Linked DNA regions of Homo sapiens: all the other regions are linked to region 1. The links come from fine-mapping of genetic effects on plasma protein levels. A gene starts in region 1. Each other region holds a variant in brackets. All regions are shown on one strand. Distances are from middle to middle.

Evidence for each region. PIP is the chance, under the fine-mapping model, that this variant and not a neighbour inherited with it causes the effect. Protein levels are from antibody-based Olink assays in UK Biobank. Linkage for the fine-mapping came from a reference panel and not from the study's own genotypes, which makes the PIPs less certain.
Region 2: its variant is fine-mapped to the plasma level of the PODXL2 protein (UK Biobank, PIP 0.90).
Region 3: its variant is fine-mapped to the plasma level of the PODXL2 protein (UK Biobank, PIP 0.99). The variant lies in the coding sequence of PODXL2. If it changes the protein, the assay may bind it differently, which can mimic a change of level.
Region 4: its variant is fine-mapped to the plasma level of the PODXL2 protein (UK Biobank, PIP above 0.99).

What each region holds. Positions count from the first base shown.
Region 1 is chr3:127,626,306-127,631,499 of GRCh38, forward strand. PODXL2 (podocalyxin like 2) reads left to right here and starts at 2,880. Exons shown (of 8, transcript NM_015720.4): 1 at 2,880-2,984. The coding sequence starts at 2,915. It overlaps LOC107986126 (a long non-coding RNA gene), which reads right to left and starts at 2,658. Exons shown (of 2, transcript XR_001740892.2): 1 at 2,501-2,658. RefSeq lists silencers at 2,813-2,882, 2,993-3,122 and an enhancer at 3,523-3,582.
Region 2 is chr3:127,131,023-127,136,216 of GRCh38, forward strand. No RefSeq gene overlaps it. Among named protein-coding and RNA genes, the nearest start is that of PRR23E, 60 kb to the right of the region's middle. The variant T/G (reference allele first, on the strand shown) is at 2,251.
Region 3 is chr3:127,658,512-127,663,705 of GRCh38, forward strand. It overlaps PODXL2 (podocalyxin like 2), which reads left to right. Exons shown (of 8, transcript NM_015720.4): 3 at 1,867-2,648; 4 at 3,726-3,800. Among named protein-coding and RNA genes, the nearest start is that of ABTB1, 12 kb to the right of the region's middle. The variant A/G (reference allele first, on the strand shown) is at 1,959.
Region 4 is chr3:127,736,475-127,741,474 of GRCh38, forward strand. The region is part of intron 3 of MGLL (monoglyceride lipase); the gene reads right to left. Among named protein-coding and RNA genes, the nearest start is that of ABTB1, 66 kb to the left of the region's middle. RefSeq lists an enhancer at 1,501-2,063. The variant G/C (reference allele first, on the strand shown) is at 2,900.

The DNA.
Region 1 (5,194 bases):
GCTTTGTCACCCAGGCTGGAGTGCAGTGGTGTGATCTCAGCTCACTGCAACCTCCACCCCCTGGGTTCAAGCAATTCTCATGCCTCAGCCTCCTGTGTAGCTGGGATTACAGTCATGCACCACCATGCCAGAGTAATTTTTGTATTTTTAGTAGAGACAGGGTTTTGCCATGTTAGCAAGGCTGGTATCCAACTCCTGACCTCAAGCTATCCACCCAGCCCGGCCTCCTAAAGTGCTGGGATTACAGGCGTGAACCACCGTACCCAGCCTGAGAAGTGGTTTCTTATTGTGGTTTTGATTTGCATTTATCTGATGGTTAATGAGGCTGAGCATGTTTTCATGTGCTTATTGACATTTGGAGGAATGTATATTCAGATCTTTGTCCATTTTAAAACATTGAGTTGTCTTTATTACTGACTTGTAAAAATTCTTTGTATATTCTAGATACATGATTTCCAAATGTTTCTTCCCATTCTGAGGATTGCCTTCACTTAAATTTTTGTTTCTTTTTTTGAGACAGAGTCTCACTCTGTCACCCAGGCTGAAGTGCAGTGGCACAATCATAGCTCACTGCAGCCTTGAACTCCTGTGCTCAAGCAATCCTCCCACCTCAGCTTCCTATGTAGCTAGGATTACAGGTGTGTGCCACCATGCCTGGCTAATTTTAAAATTTTTCATAGAGATGGCATCTTGCTTTGTTGCCCAGGTTGATCTTGAACTCTTGGGCTCAAGTGATCCTCCCACCTCAGCCTCCCAAGTAGGTAGGACTACAGACATGCACCACTACACCTGGCTAATTGATTTACTTAGAGATGGGGGTCTCACCATATTGCCAAAGCTGGTCTCAAACCCCTAGCCTCAAGTGATCCATCCTCCTACCTCAGTCTCCCCCAAGTAGCTGGGATTCCAGGCACATGCCACCACCCCTGGCAGCTTTAGAGTTTTCTTCATTTGGAGCTTACATATCTGGTTTGGTTTATTCCAGTTTTTAATAATTGTTGCTGTGATTGCGATCTTTTCTCCTACTACATTTTCTAAGTGGTTATTGAGGATACACAGAAAAGCTATTGATTTCTGTACGTTATCTTTTATTCAGCAATCTTGCTGAACTCATTGGTTTTCAATTATTTTGCCAACTGATGATCTTGCATTTTCTAGATAAACCTGCAAATAATGAGTTTTCCCCCAATACTTTCATCCCATTTCTTCTATCAGGCCTTGTTGCAGTGTCTCTTATAGAATATTCAATCATTGTGGTGGTAGTGAGGATTATTTTGTTCCATTCACTTAAAAGAGAATGTTTCTAATGTTTCATCATTAAGTATGGTTTCACCATTAAGTATGATAATAAAGGTTTCTGGGAGATACCCTTAATGGAATTGAGGACGTTTCCTTCCATTTCTTGTTTGCTTCTAAGATCTTTGTTTCTTGTAACAGAAAAACAAAACAAAACACAACAAAAAACCAAAGGGATGCTCCTTTCATCCTCAGAGGAGGAAAGAAGAGGGAAGCTGGGTCTAGACACACCCTGGATTTCTCTTTTCCAAGCCCAGCTGACAGCCACTTTTCTAGTACCCCTAACACCCACCAAATAAAAGGTGCTACATTTTGCTCATGTTCTTTCTTTTGTCTGGAACCCATTTCTTCCCTATGCTCCTCCACCCCAACTCCTATTTCTCCTAAGTATTAATATTTAGTCTGGAAGAGTCCCGTGAGATTATCTCCAATGTCTGATGCTATACCCCTGCATAGGGGGGTGGGGATATACTTTGAAAAAGCATATTCAAATAACGATTTGTTATTTTAAAGAAGTGTTTTCCTAATATGGTATATATAAAGTAACATTCCACAAAATTGTGGTTGCTGTATATTTAAGCTGCAGTACTTCTAAAAGGGTAGTCGGGGTTTTTCTCTCCCTAAAAGAGGCTGAGCTTCTTTCTAACTCAGGAACTCTATCAGTGAGCTTTTCCCTCTGCCTTGTAAGTTCTCTCCCAAACCCAATCTCCTACCTAATACCCACTCATCCTTCCAGATGCCAGCCAGCTTACCTTAAATGCTGTTTCTTCAGGAAGGCAAGCATAAGGTTCCCCTCTGTGCTGTCTCCTAGCCCCTTATACTCCTTAACAGACCGACTACCAATTGCAATCATAGGACCATATGTGTGTCCATTTTGTTTTTCAGTCTGTTTTCTCTACGAGCCTAAACTATGAGGACGAGGGATGTGCCTGTTTTATTTACCACTACAGTGCTTGGCATATTAAGGATCTTCAGTTGCCAAAAGGGAGCACATGTTAGAGAAGTCAGCACCTCTCTCATAATCTAAAACCCCCCAGTTAGCAAATGGGGCAAGTGGGGCCCAGAGGTGAGAAGAGATTTACTCAAGGTCTCGGAACCAATCTGATCCTGAGCCAGACTGCCTAGCTCTAAAGTCCAGTTCTTTGCTCTCAGGTTCTCCTTCAGGGCTCACCCAATCTAAGTACCCTGAGAAGTCTTTCCTTACCCCAGGCCTCTGTCCACCCTCACAGTCATTTCCACGCGTCGTCCTCGTCCCATCAGTCCCATCTGCCACAGCTGCCCACTCTGCTTCCCAGGGAACGGGTGACCGCGCGGGGAGAGAGCGGCATCCGGGCGCGAGGTGCGAGGCCCAGGTCTGCGGGCGGCCGGGCCAAGCCCCCGAGCCTCGGCGGTGCTGATTGGCCGGCCTGGCGGGGGGGACGGGCGGAGGGACGGCCGCCCGCGCGTCCGCTTCGTCTCCGCGGGGGCGCGCCCGCGGCACGCGGCCGGGCGGGGCCGGGCGTGAGTGACGGCCATGCGGACCAATGGGGCGGGCGCGCGCCGCCGCCGCCGCCCGCGCGGCCCCTGACGCGGGCCCGGGCGCCGCGCCGCTGCGGCTGCAGGCGGCGACGGCTACACCATGGGCCGGCTGCTGCGGGCCGCCCGGCTGCCGCCGCTGCTTTCGCCGCTGCTGCTTCTGCTGGTTGGGGGTGAGTGCGCTCCGGGCCCGAGCGCGGGAGGGCGGGCGGCGGCGTGGGCGCGGTGCTGGACAGCTCCCCGGGCCGCCAACAAAGGGGCCAGAGTGCGGCGCCGCCGGGAGCGCGCGTGTCCCGGCCGGGCCGCGGCGCCGCCCCGACACACGCGCACGAGGAGTGGGTGCGTGGGGGCCGCGGCGGGCGCCTGGCGTGCCGGGCGACCCCCGACAAAGGCGCGGCGGTGAAGCTGGGACACAGCACCGTGGCCCCCACGCCGCGGCTCTCAGGGGCAGGTGCGCAGGCTGCTGCCTCGCGGGCCGGGGGGGCGCGCACGTGTGGGTGTGCATGTGTGTGCGTGTGCTTGTGTGTGTGCGAGTGCATTGTGTGCCTGCGCACTCGGGGGAAGAGGCGTGTGTGACAGCCACGCGGGGAGGAGGCCGCATTGTGAAGGTCCCAGGGGCCGCCTGCGGAGTGTGGGGCGGGTACGCTGAGGCGCGGGTGGCTGTTTACGCGTGGCGTTGCCGGGAGGGAGTGTGAGTGTGTCACGGTGAATGGGTATTCTCTCCTGTTCTGGGCGACTCTATTAGGAGCTGACAAAAACGGGCGTACAGCCACGGAAGGCCCGTGACAGCACACGGCGGGAGGCTCCCACGCAGCTCACACACGAGGGAGGTGTGAGACTCAGATGTGTGGTTTCCATTCAGCAGCCACGCCGGGCGGCGGGCTGTGTGGGTGCGTGGCGGGCTGGGGGTGTGGCACAGGTGTGAAAGGGATGTGTCTGCCTGAGAGAGAAAGAGACGGGCCTCCTGATGGCTTCCAGCGCAGACGGGGATTTAGTGGAGGGGGTGTGTAGGGAGGTGGGCATGGGGTGTGACAGCCCATGAGGCAGGCGGCCACTATGGAAATGGCGGGGAGAAGGGCTGTCTGCAAAGGTGGGTCAAATAAGGTCATAGCTGAGCAGCTCCTGCACACACTGGCAGAGCAGAGGGAGTGTGTTACGGTGTATGTTAAGGTGTGACTGGTGCTGCTGGAGGAATACCCGGATGAGGAAGTGTGCATGTGTGCCTGTGCACACTCATCAGCCAGCTGTAACTTCACTTCTGATGCACACGTCAAAATAGCGTCCTAGTATGATGTGTGTATGTGCATGTAGGAGTGTGTATGTGCATGTAGGAGTGTGCACAGGACATTTCCCACGCAGCTGGCCCATGAAGACACAGGCACTTTGTGTCCAGATGTGTGTGAGTGAAAGAGAAACTAGTGAAGGGTCTCTATGGGAAGGGAGGAACAGTCTTTGCCTGAGGTGGGCCATGAACCTGGGACTCAGAGTGGCAGAATCCCAGGGTAAATGGCTGGGAGGGGAAAGTGGTCCCTCGCACATTCCTGTGCATGTCATGGGAAGGCTCAGTTCAGGGAGGGTACATTTTCTCCACAGTCAGTCTAGGGATGAAGAAAGGCCCTAGGTGGTGTGCACAGAAAAACATGTCCATCAGTGTTGGCTCAGACACTCACACAAACCCACCTGTATTCTTTCACGCCGTAAATCCTCTTTGGAAAAAGGCGACATTCAATAAATAAACATCAATTGATTGGTCTGCTATTTCTTTGTGTGACAGTCATAAACCAGAACTGGCCAGCAACGTCCTCATGGACCCAGGCCCAGCTGTAACTGCCCATGTGCTTATGTGACCAGCTGTGAGGACTGCAGGCAGCCTGCCTCCCGGCTCCTCTCTCCCGTGCATGCTCTTCATGACGCACTTCTTACCCCCTGCTTGGAGGGCATGTGCGTGTGTCTAGCAGTGTGTCTCTTTCTTACACACCTTTGTGTGGAAGCCCTTCAGGGACCTGTCAGCATTGTTTCTCAGGTGCTTACAGAGTGGAGGTAGCGTGACTGTGCTCAGCAGTTCCTGTTGTCGCTGACACTTAAGGGTGAGGAGCTGTGTGACAGATGCTGCAGGGCCCCTCCCATGTTGGTGTCTGCCAAGAGCTTAGGGAGACTGGACTTCAAAGACCCTGCTTAGGGGAGAGGTGGGGTGTAGCTGATGGTGGAAATCAGAAAGGAGTTTTGCACCGGGAGCAGATCACAGGGACTGATTTGAAAAGGTAAGATAAAACATGAGGATCGCTGGGGTCTTGTTTTTTTCACCTCCCCAAATGTCAGCCTGCTTCCTTTGCCTCCTTCTGTGTTTGTTTGGGTCAGATTTTCATTTCTTTGAGGCTGATCC
Region 2 (5,194 bases), 500 kb before region 1:
ATATGAAAAGATGAACTTTAATAGGGCTTGCTTTAGACTTACTGTTAAACAAAATGTTAAATACCTATTGTAGTTAATAATTTCAAGCTTCCTTCTCTCATCTTTTCTGGTTTTCTGCTTTTTGCCCCCTTCAGATTCTGTTGCCGTTTCACCAGATTTTTATGTACTTCAAGGTTTTAGAAAGGTCGTGTATTCTGTTCTTAGCTTTAACTAATTTCAGCTTTTTGTATACATTCTAACCCTTATGTTTTTGGCTGCCAGATTCAAGAGTAAAACACGGCATATATTGAAGTCCTCCTGTTTAAGACTACTATTAGGATATTTTGGTTGCAAGAGACTGACATTCCCAATGAAATGGCCTTAATTCCAAGTGGAATGCTTCAGCTCCCATAAGTGCCGAACCTAGGGGTACATCAGCTTCTGACAAGGCCACTCTGGGGTTCACCTTTAGTGACGTGCATTTATGATCGTATAATTATCTGCTTGGCTGTCTGCCCCCATTGGTGGTGGGCTTGCTCAGTGAGCCTGTCAGGAGTGCTTCCGGCTGACCAGCAGTGCACTCAGGTGTAGGCATATTTGATGGTCATGTAACAGCTGTAAATCAGAAGCCAGGCAGTTGCATGGGTCTGAGTGAAGGGACTGTTTACAGAGGCCTGGACAGGGTCCCAAGGACTCACAGGGGACATGGAGGCACCCAGAAGTTAGCAATGCTACGAGCTGTTCCCACTCCAGGCCTGAAGGTCTAGGGAAGGAAACAGTGTTGCCAGAGCTCAGGGGAGGAGTCCCAGACAGAAGGTGCCGCTGGGAGAGAAGGGTGCAGCCTCTCCTGATAAGGGTGCCCAGAGCAGGGAGGGATGGGAGCCAACACCCCAGCCTCTTTCACTTCCCTGCAATCTCTCTCCAGCACCCACACTGGCCAGTGTCGCTGAGAGGCAGCCAAGCTGGCTGGAGTCTGCAGGGGTCGGCCTTCTGAGCCCTGGGTGTCTGGGTGGGGGTATGGAGAGTAACCAGCCGGGGTGGCTTCAGAGAGCTGACAAAACCAGCGTGCATGTGCCAGGTGTGGTGCTTTATGCCAGCACTGTGGGAGGCTGAGGTGGCCAGATCACTTGTGGTCAGGAGTTCGAGACCAGCCTGGCCAACATGGGGAGACCCCGTCTCTACTAACAATACAAAAATTAGCCAGGTATGATGGCGCACGATTGTAATACCATCTACTTGGGAGGCTGAGGTGGGAGGATCCCTTGAACCCAGGGTGCAGAGGTTGCATTGAGCCAAGATTGTGCTACTGCGCTCCAGCTTGGGTGACAGAGCGAGACTCTATCCCCCCAGCACCCCTCTAAAAAAACCAGGGTCCATGTGAGTGTCTCTGCCTTCTCCTGCCTTCTCTCCATGGTGGGGGGAATGCCGGCCGCAGCTCCAAGCCTCCCACGATCCTGTGACACGCTCCCCCCCAGGGAGACATAGGGTGGACACAAAGGCCTGCCTGTGTTATTGTGTGTTGCACTAGGGGAGAAGCTTTCCCAGAGACCCCCAGCCAACTTCCCTAGGCAGCGTTGGCCACAGCTGGGTCACAAGCCCACCACACTTTCCCAGCTACAGGTCAACACGATTGAGTGCCCTGATCACCTTAGACCATCATGATCCACACCAGGGCTCTTAAGCCACCCTCTCTGGCCCAGGCCCACCGAAGGGTACTGCAGGGTTAGCAATTCTCAGGCCCCATCCTGCTTACTTGCCTGCAGGAGTTGACATGATCTCTCTTCTCTGTTGTTTTTCTTAAATTGGCTTTATTGAGGTAGAGTTTACTTACAGTAAAATGCACTCATTGGAAGCGTACAATTTAATGAGTTTTTACAAAAGCACTCATACTTGTAACAACTGCCACATCGAGCTACAGAACACTGGCAACAGCCCAAAAAGTCCCCTGGAGCCCACCTGCAGTCAGTTCCCACCCTGAAACCATAGCCCTGGGGAGCCAAAGATCTGCTTTCTGTCACTAGGATTATTTTGCATTTTCTAGAATTGCATATAAATGGAATCCTATGGTCTGTGTTCTTTTGTGTAGAGCTTCTTTTGTCAGCACGATGGTGTGAGAGTCACCGGTGTTGTGGCTTGTATCAGCAGCTGATCCCTTCTTACTGAGGGTGGCTTTTCACTGCACGAACCTGTCACTGCTGTTTATCCACTTCTTCCATTTTGAAGCAGTTTCTTGGCTTCTAGAGAAACCCTCCTTTTCTCGTTTATCTCCTC[T/G]CCCTGACCTCTTAACCTGGGGGTTCCCAGGGTTCAGGCAGGTCCTTGTACTCGCCCAGTTTCAGGGCTTCACATGCCTTCTAGAGGCAGACCTCCAAATCTCAACCTGCCACCAGTCCTCATGACTTGCGCACACAGATGTCTCCTAACAGCTCCCACTGCACACGCCTGCATGATTTTCTTCTCCCTGCTGTGACAAATGACCACAAACTTCACTGCTGAAGCAAAACAAATGTGTCCTTTCATAGTTCTGGAAGCCAGAAGTAGTGGCGTCAGGGTGTTGGCAGGTGGTTTTTCTGGATGGAGGACGAGCTTCTAGAGGCCGCCTCCATCCTTGGCTCGTGGCCCCTGCCTCCTTCTTCAAAGCCAGCAGCGTAGCATCCTCAAAGGTCCCTTTCTGACTCTGACCCTCTGGCCTCCCTCTTATAAGGACCCACTTTGTAATCACATTGGGCCATCTGAATAATCCAGTATAATTTCCCAATCTCAAGATCCATAACTTAATCATACCTGCAAAGTCCCATTTGCCACAAAGGTGATATATTCTGGGGACTGGGACAGGGATATCGCTGGGGGTCATGATTCCACCTTCAACCATGTCCAGATAAAACCCTAGAACTCTGACCTTCCCTCCACCGGCTCTTCCCATTTCAGACATTGCTCCTGGCTGGCCTGACCTCCCCTCACCCTCACCAGCCCATCAGCAACATCTCTTGGCCCTCTCTCTGAAATACACCCAGGACCCAAACACTCACTCCTCTCACTGGCGCTGGCCCAGGCCTGCACAGCTTTCACCTGGGCTAATGAGCTAGCCTTTGTTGGCCTCCCTGCATTCCAGCTCCTGTCTCACTCAGGGTCAAAGCCAGGGCCTCAGAGTGGCCTGTCCAGCCTCACAGGGGGGGCCTCTGTGCCTTTTGGGCCTTCTTTTCAGCCCCCTCCCGTCCCCCACTGAATGGGGCAGGCAGCCCCTTGCTCCTGTCTGCGTGGTGCTCCTTCTGCCTGGAGCCCCTCACCTCCTTTCAAGGGGGCCTTCCTACTCCACCCCCACCGCTGCCTGCTGGCTTGGTCCCCTCCTTGCTCTGGGCTACTTTCGCCAGCATCGAGCTTCTCATGCATGTGTCCTCTGCTCACCGCCCATCTTTCCCATTAGAAGGAAAGTCTCATGAAGGCGGACTCTCCACCCGTGTTGTTTACCCGTGTATCCTGAGTGGCATTCAGCTCCACAACACGATGGAGGCTCAGCACACATTCACTGAACCGGTGAACCAGGGATGGACATCACCCGGGGCTCAGGGCAGCCAGATCTTCTCAGGGGAAGGCGGCCGGCACAGGCTTGCCTTCCTGGGAGGTGGAGTGAGGACAGGGCTTCCTGTGGGGAGGAGCTCAGTGAGTGGGATGGTGGCCCTCAGAGCTGGGCTTCTGCTGGGGTGGGGTCTGGACCCGGGGATGAGGTGAGACTGGAAGCAGGAGCTGGGAGAAGGAGGCTGCCCTAGGCAGCTGAGGAGGAGGGAGAACATGCTACAGGGCTGGGATATTGGGGGCTGGGGAGGGGCCTCTTCATGAGAGCTGTGCTGCCCATGGTGTGTGTGTGAACGGGTGCATGTGGGTGCCTGTGTGGACATGCCTGTTGGGGGGAGCGTCTGCTCATGGTGCCCACAGGCGTGCTTCTGGCAGTGTGTGTCTGGAGGTGTGATTTGTGTGCATGTGTGTGTCCTTGTATATTTATGGAGCATCTGTGTGTGTGCATGTGTGTCTGTGTCCATGTGCATATGTGCATTCATACATGAGTGTGTCTGAGTGTGCCTTGGTGTCTGGGAGTGAGCGCGTCACCATGCATCTTTCTATCTGGATGTCTGTGCACATGTATAAATGTGTGTGTGTCTGGAAGTAAGCATGTGAGTGAGTAAGAGTCTGCATGTCCTGCTGTGCCCCCGGGCTGGGCATCTGTATGTGGTGTGGTGGCTAGCCGTGCATGGTCATGTCTGGCCCCACGCGTGGCCCCGGAGGGTACACATTTGTGTCCATGCACGCGGTGCCTCTGCAGCCAGGCTGCAGCCAGGCCCTGCCAGCCCGCTCCCCTCCCGCGTCGGGCTGACGGCTGCCTGGGGCAGGTCTGAGGAGCCAGAGAACTCTTCGCGCTGTCACTGTTAGGGAAATCTGTGTCATCAGGCGCAGGACTGGAAAACAGCCAGCGCAGGGGGCCCTTGAGCCCGAGCCCTCCCCGCCCGCGCTGTCACCAGGGCCACGGGGCTCGGGTTAACTGATCGCAGGGAAAAACCCATTAAGCGCCTGCCTCTCCCAGTCATCCGTTATCGCGCGGACGGTCGCTCTTCTTCACGTAATTGGAGAAACTTTTCCCATTACCCGCTGTCTCTGCGAGGCGGCTCTCCCGCCCCCGCACCCTCCCCGCGGCCCCTCTGCCGTCACGCGGGTTCTTTTCCTCCTCCTTAAGAGGCTGACCTAATTTCCACTCTTTGTCATTTTCTCCCGACCAAACTCGGAGTCGGCTTTCTCCAGGAGCTGCTAGGAGCCTGGGCTCCCACTGAGCAATCCAGAGCAGCGTCTCCATTTCCTGGGCTCTCCAGGCCATCGCAGCCCCCGGCCCTGCCACGCACCGGCGCAGCCCCTGCACTCGGGCGGCCCTGCCTCGGCGGGATGAGTTCGTCCGAGGTGCATACAAGATGAGAAACAGAGCGCCGGGTTGCAGTGCCAGGCACCGAGCTGGGCTCCCCGAAGGCAGGCTCCAGTCCCTCTTCCCTGCTTCTTTCCGTGGGAAGGCAGAGCTGACTGTGGTTTCCAGAGGGGCAGCAGCAAAAACGAAAACATACTGTCCTCCTCCAGCGGCTGGGTCCTACCTGGGGAGGGCCTGTGTTCTTCACCAGCCTGGCCCCCAACCCCAGAGGGGAGCCCGGACAGAGGTTTTCTCTTGCTGCCTGGGTGCCTG
Region 3 (5,194 bases), 32 kb after region 1:
TTTTGCAATCACACTTGAGTAGTCATTTATTTGGATATAACATTTCAGGTTCAAAATAAACATCCCTCAGATTTTTCAGTGCATTTTTAAATTCTTCCTCTAGGCTACTGATATTAATTAGAAGCTTCATGATAATTTGGTAATCTGTTTCTTGTTCCTTTACAGATAACCTGTTCTTTCTCTGAGAGCTGTTAAGATTTTCTCTTGCTCCTTATAATTCTAAAATCACATGAGAATGAGGCTAGGTGTAAGTCTTTTATCATTCACCTTGATGATACAAGCTTTCATTGCAAAGATTCATGTTGCCAGCTCTGAAACTTTTTTTCTTTGTTTCTCTCCATTATTCTCCATTTTGTTGGTTCTATCTTTCCAGAAATCATATTAGCTAGGTATTAGATCTCCTACATTGGTTGTCTGTATCTTTTAACTCTTATCTGTTGTCTTCTCACTTTTGCCCTAGAGGCTTTTCCTTGACTTTTTTTTTTCCCAGCCATTAAAAATTTGAATTTTCAATCCGTTGAATTTTTAAATATCAACTATTGACTTTCAATATCCAAGAAATTTTTCTTTTTTAAAGATTACTTGATTTTCTGAGTGGCGTCTTATTTTAGGGATGCAATATTTTGTAATCTTTCTGAGGATACTAATTAGACTTTTAAAAATTACCTTCTGTTCTCTGAATTTTCTGTGTTCTACATCCTTGCTCCCACAGTTGTGCCTCTTCCTAACTCTGGGTAAGAAAGCCTGCCTCCTCCCCTGCTATTTTTTCCTATGTTTATTTTGGCTGAGGGGTTATCTGTTCCTATAATCTCATCTGCTTTCCATGTTCCCAGAAATTTCTCTAAAATGTTTTTATCTTCATTTTGACAGTTAAAATTGTTTTTGTCATTTGATAAAAGTTTTGGAGGAGGAGGTAAATGAATACCTTTAGTTCGCTATCTTAAAGTGTTCCCACCACTCTCCTTTCTAAAGAGTATTTTAAAACTACAATATTTATTATTTTGAAACAAAATGGCAGCCAATAAAAGTTGCTTCCTAGATACAGCTTCTGATATTTTGAATGAATTTCCAAAAAACTTGTTGTATAACTTTCATGCATAGTTATTTGGAAGAGGCCTAGGGTTCATTGAAAAGCCAGAAAACAATCTGATCTCCAGGAAGTCTCCTAACTTCTCTGCTTCAAAATGTAATTCCCAAGAATGGCAGGGAGAATAAAAACCCCTCTCCCATTGCCAACAGTGACCCTGAACATTCTGGGAGGCCCTGGAAAACTCTGGGCTCAGCCCCTGGCCTCTCTCTGGCTCTCCCTACATCTTTTTCATTTCCTGTCAGGGCCTAAATTACAGAAAAAGAGCACAGTTGAGGAACAATGGTCATAATTGAGGGGTCTCACTTCCTCCAGTGATGAGAGGGCTCTCAGACCTCCTTCGGGGACTCCACCAAGAAGACTCTTATAACGACTCACTAGAAAAGGAGTAGGGGGACCCTTCCTAGTGGGTTGTTGTGGGATCTTCTTGGTGAAATCCCCAGATGAGGACAAGCAAGCACATTACAAACACAGTGGAGAATATATACCTCAAACTACTCATGGCTCTTTTGGAGGAATGCAATATACAAAACTTTCTACATTCCTGTGTTCATTGAGTTTTGGTGATAAATTTGTATTATTTTATCATCATAAAGGAAACAGTGACTAGCCTTGTCCCTGTGTCCTCCCACAGTCTGCTCCCCTGGCCTCTCCATCATGACCTGATGACCCCTGCCCTGTCAGTGTATTGTGGTTCTTTTATGCCATCTGCCCAGTAAATACTGAGTAAAGCAATGAATGATGAAACAAGTGAATGAACTTTTCATCTCTGTCCTTAGATTATGTTTTTCCTGACTTAACTGAGAAGGCAGGTTCCATTGAAGACACCAGCCAGGCTCAAGAGCTGCCAAACCTCCCCTCTCCCTTGCCC[A/G]AGATGAATCTGGTTGAGCCTCCCTGGCATATGCCTCCCAGAGAGGAGGAAGAAGAGGAAGAGGAAGAGGAGGAGAGGGAGAAGGAAGAGGTAGAGAAACAAGAGGAGGAGGAAGAGGAGGAGCTGCTCCCTGTGAATGGATCCCAAGAAGAAGCCAAGCCTCAGGTCCGTGACTTTTCTCTCACCAGCAGCAGCCAGACCCCAGGGGCCACCAAAAGCAGGCATGAAGACTCCGGGGACCAGGCCTCATCAGGTGTGGAGGTGGAGAGCAGCATGGGGCCCAGCTTGCTGCTGCCTTCAGTCACCCCAACTACAGTGACTCCGGGGGACCAGGACTCCACCAGCCAAGAGGCAGAGGCCACAGTGCTGCCAGCTGCAGGGCTTGGGGTAGAGTTCGAGGCTCCTCAGGAAGCAAGCGAGGAAGCCACTGCAGGAGCAGCTGGTTTGTCTGGCCAGCACGAGGAGGTGCCGGCCTTGCCTTCATTCCCTCAAACCACAGCTCCCAGTGGGGCCGAGCACCCAGATGAAGATCCCCTTGGCTCTAGAACCTCAGCCTCTTCCCCACTGGCCCCTGGAGACATGGAACTGACACCTTCCTCTGCTACCTTGGGACAAGAAGATCTCAACCAGCAGCTCCTAGAAGGGCAGGCAGCTGAAGCTCAATCCAGGATACCCTGGGATTCTACGCAGGTAAAGTGAGGGGCATGCGGGCCACCACCCTGTACCTTCTTCACAGAGCCTGGCCATCCCCAGGGCTAGTGTGGCATGGGGGCAGGATCTGCCAGGTTGAGGAGGGAGGCCCTTTCCACAGCACGTAGAACCCCATGGAACTTGTGGGGATGCAAACCTCAGGGCCAACAATGGGTGTTCTCCCCACACTTCTGTGCAAAGGCCTTTGGAGAAACTTGGTGGCCTGGCCTGGGTTTCATTTGTTCATGTGTTACCATTGCCACCCTTAGACATCTTTTGTTTTTTTTTTTTCCCGAGATGGAGTCTCACTCTGTCGCCCAGGCTGGAGTGAAGTGGGCATGATCTCGGTTCACTGCAACCTCCACCGCCCAGGTTCAAGCAATTCTCATACCTCAGCCCCCTGAGTAGCTGGGATTACAGGCATGTGCCACCATGCCTGGCTAATTTTTGTATTTTTAGTGGAGACAGGGTTTCACCATGTTGGCCAGGCTGGTCGGGAACTCCTGACTTCAAGTGATCCACCCGCTATGGCCTCCTGAAGTGCTGGGATTACAGGCATTAGCTACCGCACCCAGCCCACACTTAGACTTCTGCACTGATTCTACCAGCAGCTAGAGCTAGTGGCTGACCTGTGCTTTCCCCATCCCATCTCACCACCCTCCTCCTCCCCACCGACACCCATGTGCATAGCAGGCACAAGTCAGTGTTCACACCCACTGACACCGCAAGGAAAAGAAAGGAGCCCCAGAATATTAACAATAAACTTGCCCTTGAAAGCCAGCATGTGGGGCAAGCTCTCTGCAGCCTGGCCCCTTTGATATAGTCCCCTACTTCCTGGGAATAATGCCTGGCCTCCTCCTCTCACTCAATACATTCCCTGCTTGGTCCCCAAAGACATTCGAGTTTGTACTCCTTGGCATGGTGCCTCACAGAGGCTGTCAGCAGCCCCCTCGCTGTAATACGCCTCCACTGGCCTCCACCTTCCAGCTTCCCAAAAGGCCTCCGACCGGGGCTCTCTCCCCTGTCCCTTTCCTATGCCTTCGTAACTGTCGCCCTTCTTTCTGTCTCCTCGCACAGGTGATCTGCAAGGACTGGAGCAATCTGGCTGGGAAAAACTACATCATTCTGAACATGACAGAGAACATAGACTGTGTGAGTGCCCAGCCAGGCTCCGAACCGCAGGGAAAGGCTGCAGGCAGTGGACAGGGTGGGGCAGAGGGCAGGCTGGGGGGACAAGCAGTGCGTGGGAGAAGGCTTAGTCCTTCAGTTGGTGGCCCAGGGATATACCAGCAGCCATCAACATTACACACAGAGAGCTTTCGTATTTTAAAATGTCCAAAGGCTCTTTGGTTCTTGCTTCCCTCTCTTTTTAATTTAAATGAATACTTTGTTCATGTGTGCACCATCTTACCTCTCCCGTGATATTGAAACCTTTCTGTCTTTTTTAGAGTTGTTTTCTTCCTGTATAGGTTGCTTTTCTCCGTTTTGGGTCTCAGCCTTTTCATATATATACATGCTCTCCACACATGTCTGGTGGAGTTTGTTCATAGCTCTCTCTATCGAAAAAGTGGCTGGAAGCTTTGAGCATAGTGCTAGGGTTGTCAGCTATGGCTTCTCATGAGAGTGGTCTGGCTGGGCCGTATCACTTAGAAATTTGCAATGGCAGCATTGTTAGGTCCTTCCTCCTGAGGTGATTAGAGTCTTTGAAAAGGGAACTTCTGTTCTGTTCGAAGTATAACAAGTTGGTTGTCAGTGTTCTGGGAGCTGGGGTGGAGAGAGAGGGCTGGGTGTTTCAGTATTATAAATATGTATCCATAAATATCAATATTCATGTACTGTCTCTTCCTGTTTGCAGAGTGACCTTCTCCCTCCCCAAAACACACACTTGTGTCTGATGCTCTCTAGGTCAGAGACCCTCTGTTTTATCTTTTTTAAAGAATAAACTTCCAGTCTTCTGCCAGGGAGAAGGGACATTTCTTGGCTGTGCAGCACTGCGGGAAGAACTAGGGACCCAGCCGTTTCTTAAGCAAACTTTCGACCAGCTCATATTTTTAGTAGCATTTTCATCCCCTCTTCCAAAGGTAACCAGGGCCCCTATTCCGGGGCATCTGGGGAGTGTCAATCAGTATGCATCTGATTGCTTCTCAGCTTTCCTCATTTTGGCTTAGGGTTTGGCTCTTTAGAGTTTGCTAAATTAGGAAATTCTAACTCACCATCTGCTTCCAGTGTCTAGATTTTGTTGCTCTTGTCTCCTCTTCTGTTTTGCTTTGTCTCTGGTTTTAGGCCTTAAATTCTTTACTCTTGTTAGTGGGCCTGGGCAAGACTGAAGGGACATGCATGCGTTGAATCCAAAAGTCCCCAGCAAGGTTGGTTTCCCCCACCATCACTATACTGATGGATCTTCACCTAAGTGATGTGTGTTTTCATCCATTGCAGTTATTATTTTTACTGATGCTCAATACCTCATCTTTGGCCAGGGAAAGCCTCTTTGAGTTGGCCTCTGAGTCCTTTTGACCAATCTATTAAGTGTCTGATTGCTTCCTTGC
Region 4 (5,000 bases), 110 kb after region 1:
TTCAGCTTCATGCATCCCTGCCCAGGCAGGGCTGGGTGAGGGGAAGGGCTCCTTTCACCTGGGTTTAATGAATGAATAAGCACTATTCCAAATTTGAATTCAGCTAAGATGTAATGAAGGCAAAGAGAAAAGAGCCTCATTTGTTAAGCACTTGCGGTATGCCTGGCCCCATGCCAGGCCATCAGGCCTGCTACTCCTCTTGTTTGTTTATTTATTTATTTGTGTATTTTTATTTTTTGAGACAGGGTCTCACTCTGTCACCCAGGCTGGAGTGCAGTGGTGCAATCTCGGCTCACTGCAGCCTCGACCTCCTGGGCTCCAATGATCCTCCTGCCTCAGCTTCCCGAGTAACTGGGACCACAAGCGCATGTCACCACGCCTGGCTAATTTTTGTATTTTTTGTAGAGACAGGGTTTCACCTTGTTGGCCAGGCTGGTCTAGAACTCCTGACCTCAAATGATCCACCTGCCTCGGCCTCCCAAAGTGCAGGGATTACAGGCATGAGCCACTGCGCCCGGCCCTCCTCTTGTTTAATAATAACCCAAGCTGGGAGGGAAGAGTCACCATCTACCAGTTGGAAGATGAGGAGGCTAAGGCCAGTAGCACTGTATCCTGGAGGTGGCCAGTAATTACAAATGACCTGGGCAGATGTTCCAGTGAGGAGAATACAGGGCCACTTTGGTCTGTAGCCTCAATTTTCATAATGACCCTTATCATAGCAGTGAGCATTTATTGAGTGCTTCCTGTGTGCCCTGCTCTGTGCTAGCCACCATCCATTCCCTCCCTCACTAATCCTCACAGCACCCTCTGATGTGTGACTGTAGTAAGGTGGAGGTCACCTCTGTGTGACCTTGGGCAGTGACTTCACTTCCTGAAGGCTCAGCCTCGTCACCTGCAATAAGGGGCACTCACAAGCCCACGTCAGAAGGTGCTGTGAGAATTAGTGAGGGAGGGAATGGATGATGGCTAGCACAGAGCGGGGCACACAGGAAGCACTCAATAAATGCCCACTGCCATGATAAGGGTCATTATGAAAATTGAGGCTGCAGACCAAAGCGGCCCTGTATTCTCCGCACTGGAACATCTGCCCGGGTCATTTGCAATTCCAGGACATCACTGGCCACCTCCAGGACACAGTGAAATCATCAACTGCTTCTTTTTTTTTTTTTTTTTTTTTTTTTTTTTGTGAGACAGGGTTTTGCTCTTCTTGCCCAGGCTGGAGTGCAATGGCGCAATCTTGGCTCACTGCAACCTCCACCTCCCGGGTTGAAGCAACTCTCCTGCCTCAGCCTCCCAAGTAGCTGGGATTACAGGCATGCACCACCACACCTGGCTAATTTTTTGTATTTAGTAGAGATGGGGTTTCACCATGTTGGTCAGGCTAGTCTCGAACTTCTGACCGCAGGTGATCCCCTGCCCTAGTCTGGATTATAGGCATGAGCCACCGCCCATCAACTCCTTCTTAAAACGGGCATTAATTATGCATTCACATATGGCACATGGTAATATTATCTAAGTAAGAATAACGTAAGAAGTGCTCGTGTGGCTAGGCGCAGTGGCTCAGACCTGTAATCCCAGCACTTTGGGAGGCCAAGGTGGGCAGATGGCTTAAACCAGGAGTTTGAGACCAGCCTGGACAACATGGTGAAACCCCACCTGTACAAAAAATACAAAAAATTAGCCAGGTGTGGTGGCACATGCCTGTAGTTCCAGCTATTCGGGAAGCTGAGGCAGGAGGATCGCTTGAGCCCGGGAAGTTGAGGCTGCAGGGAGCCGTGATTTCACCACTGCACTCCAGCCTGGGTGACAGAGTGAGATTCTGTCTCTTTAAAAAAAAAAAAAAAATGTGTTCTTGGTTCCTGGAAGCAGGAAATGGTAACCTAGATCTTTCTTGTTGATTCCTCCAGCAAACACAGGAGCAAGCCACGCCTTGGGAGGCCTTGTTTCTGGAATCACAATTCTACCTCCCAAGGAGCTGCTGGTGGAAGGGTGGAGGCTGGTCAGGCTTCTGGTGTTCAGCACCCACTCAGCCCTGGGTTGCTCACAACCATGGACAGGCAGAAGGAGGTCCTGGGCAGGAGCCATCTGCCAGGCTGGAGCACCCTGCAGCCTGGGTCCCACTCCTTGGGCCTGCCTGCAGAGAGGTTAGAAAGGGATTATCTGGCCCTCTCCATCTGGGCACACTGCTCAGCTTCCAGCATGGGGGAGAAGGCCAGTCCAGCCCCTGTAGGAGTGAGCACTCCTGAGTACCAAGCGGCAGGGTGGTGTGAGGGGCTTCTGCAGCAGGGCACAGAGTCCCTGGATGCCAACTGACAGTGTGACTGTATAAAGAAGCGGTCCCAATCTGCACCAGCCGCACAGGCCAGCTATGCTTACATTTACATCAGTTAAAATGAAAAAGCAGAAAAACTCAGTTCTGTAGTCTTACCAATGCCCTACGGCCACACGCAACCAGTGGCTTCCACGCAGGATGGGCAGAGGTAGAACATGTCCACCATCGCAGAAATTTCTAGTAGGCAGCATTGAAGATGCCTTCAATTCAGGAGGCACCAGGTGGAATGAAGGAAATGCCTGTGTCCATTTGCCTGCATCTTAAATGATACACACTGCATCTCTGCTCTGATTGCAAAAGTAAAACATGTTCAAGGGAGCTATCTGGGAAAAATCCCGAAAAGCCTCAAGTGGCCGCTGAGTGCAAAGACCCCAGAATGAGACTTCTTCAGATCAAATCCGGATCCACCACAGGGAGGCCTCTTGTGGGGGGTTCAACTTCTTTGAGGCTCAGTCACCTCCTTTGCAAATTGAGGGTAGTGAAAGTCCCCACCTCTCTGGCTTGTTAGTGAGTTTAACTGAGATAATTGCTATAAAGTGCTTAGAGCAGTAAGACACAGAGTAAGTG[G/C]GCAGTAAATATTGGTTGTAGAAATAAGAACTAAAAGTCAAACCACTCCTGCCAACCAGAAATAATTAAGTATTATTAGTTTGGTCTCCTTTCAATAACTTGCCAACGTGAACTGTATGAACTGGCCTGGGAAGACCTCCAAGAGCCACTGTGGATAGAAAAAGCTTAAATTGCTGAATGACGCCTACGTAGCTCACCACTGATGCTTTTAAAAACCCACAAAATACTACTGTTTCCTTTGGCTCATACGTGATATCAAAGCAGAGAGAAAGCTCTGGAAGATTATACTGCAAACCGGCCATGCTGGTGACCTTATGGAGGGCTTTGGGATGGAGCAGCAGGCCTGAGATTTCATTCATGGAACTCTTACATGGACAACTGGATGCCACGCAGGGGTGTGGACCAGTGGTACTGTGCTGCTTCTTTGAGGCTTTGGGGGTTCCTGGAGATGCTTTCTACCATCCTCCAAGTGTGCATGCAGCCAGCCCCCAGTGCACCTTTGCTAAGCACTTGCTGTATGCTGGCCAGTGTCTAGGTGAAGCACGTATAGAGACTCATAAAATGCAGGTGTGGGCCTGGGGCCAGACACACACACAGCGAGTCCCCTTGCCTGTGTGGGAGCCCGCTCAGAGGCCTGCGGGCCAGCAGGCAGCTCTGAGTGGGGAAGCCCTGGCCTCAGCAGGTCCAGGCCGCACAGGAATGTGGGTCCAGCGTGGCCCAGTCTTCCAAATGTTCAAGATAAGCTAGAAATCCAGTTTTAAGGTCAAGTCTCCTAGTTCTCTTTTTAAAAACTTGTGGTAAATGTGCATAACCTAAATTGACCGCCTTCACTGTCCGAAGTCACCACTTGTGGCATGAAGCTCGTTCACACAGACATGCAGCTACCAGCACCATCCAGCTTCGAACCCTGCCATCCTCCCCAGCTGAAACGCGGTCCTTGTTCAGCAACTCTGTCTTCCCTGCCCCCACCCCCTGGCAACCACCACTGACTTTTTGTCTTCATGAGTTTGACTGCTCTAGGACTTCATGTAGGTGGAATCATAGAGTATCTGTCCATATCAGTTCCAGTTTTAAAAAGTCTGAGTGGACTTCGCAAAAACCCCTCTGAGGACTGCCGGGACCCAGGTCGCCGTTTGCTGGCCTCACCCTCCAGCTTAGAGAATTCAAGAGAAAGGAAGGCAGGGGCTCTGCGGGGGCCCTGAGGTTCCAGTTCTGTGGGGGTTGTGCAGGGCAGTAGGGGGTACACCCCAAGGGAAGTGGCCTGTGGTCTGAGTCACGTAAACTTCAGGATGAAAATATATTCCAAGTGGAGGATGAAGTCACCAGTGCGGGGACAATGGTGTGACGCTGGCCTGGAAGGAAAGCTCCCCACACTGAGGGTGGAGGTGAGGCTTGCAGGGGCCAAAATGTGGCCGTGTCGACGTAGTGTGGGGACCTCCCAGGGCTGGATTCTGGACGTCTGTTTTCATACAAGAACACAGCACGGGAAAAGTGTTCTGTTCAGCCAGGCAGGGCCTAGGGGAGTAGAACGCCCCCAAAGCAGTGCAAGCTTTCCCTGGGGCTGGACTGGCCCAGGCTGCAGGTACCAATGCCTGGCCCCAGCCAGCAGGGAAAATGCTGCTCCCCACGGCTACCCCCAGTGAGCACAGAGCCTGACCTGGTAGACCTAACCACTGGGCCTTCAGCCACAGTGACCAGTGACAACCTCTCTGTGGCCAGGTGCCTGAGCTCAGCTGTGCCCAAAGAGAGACAGGACAACTAGGTCTCTGTTTCCTCTACATTCCATGGATACAATGTTCTTCTTCTTCATCACAGGAAACACATCCAGTAGCACCTAGGATGTGACATCCAGAGACACAGTGGGGTGGAGTGAATGAGAATGGAAACATACAACATGGTGTGTGTGGCGACCCCAGCTCCAGGCCATGCCCACTCCTCATGCTTTCTTGGGGGGGAAAGTGGACCTGTCCAGCACAGACTGTGGGGTGGCCCTGAGTGTGGCGCTGGATGCCAGGGCAGGCTGGGTGCTCCCAGGGGGCATGGCCCTCTCAGGCTCTTCCCAGCCAGACCCCATCTCCCAGGAAAGACAAAGCCGCCTGGT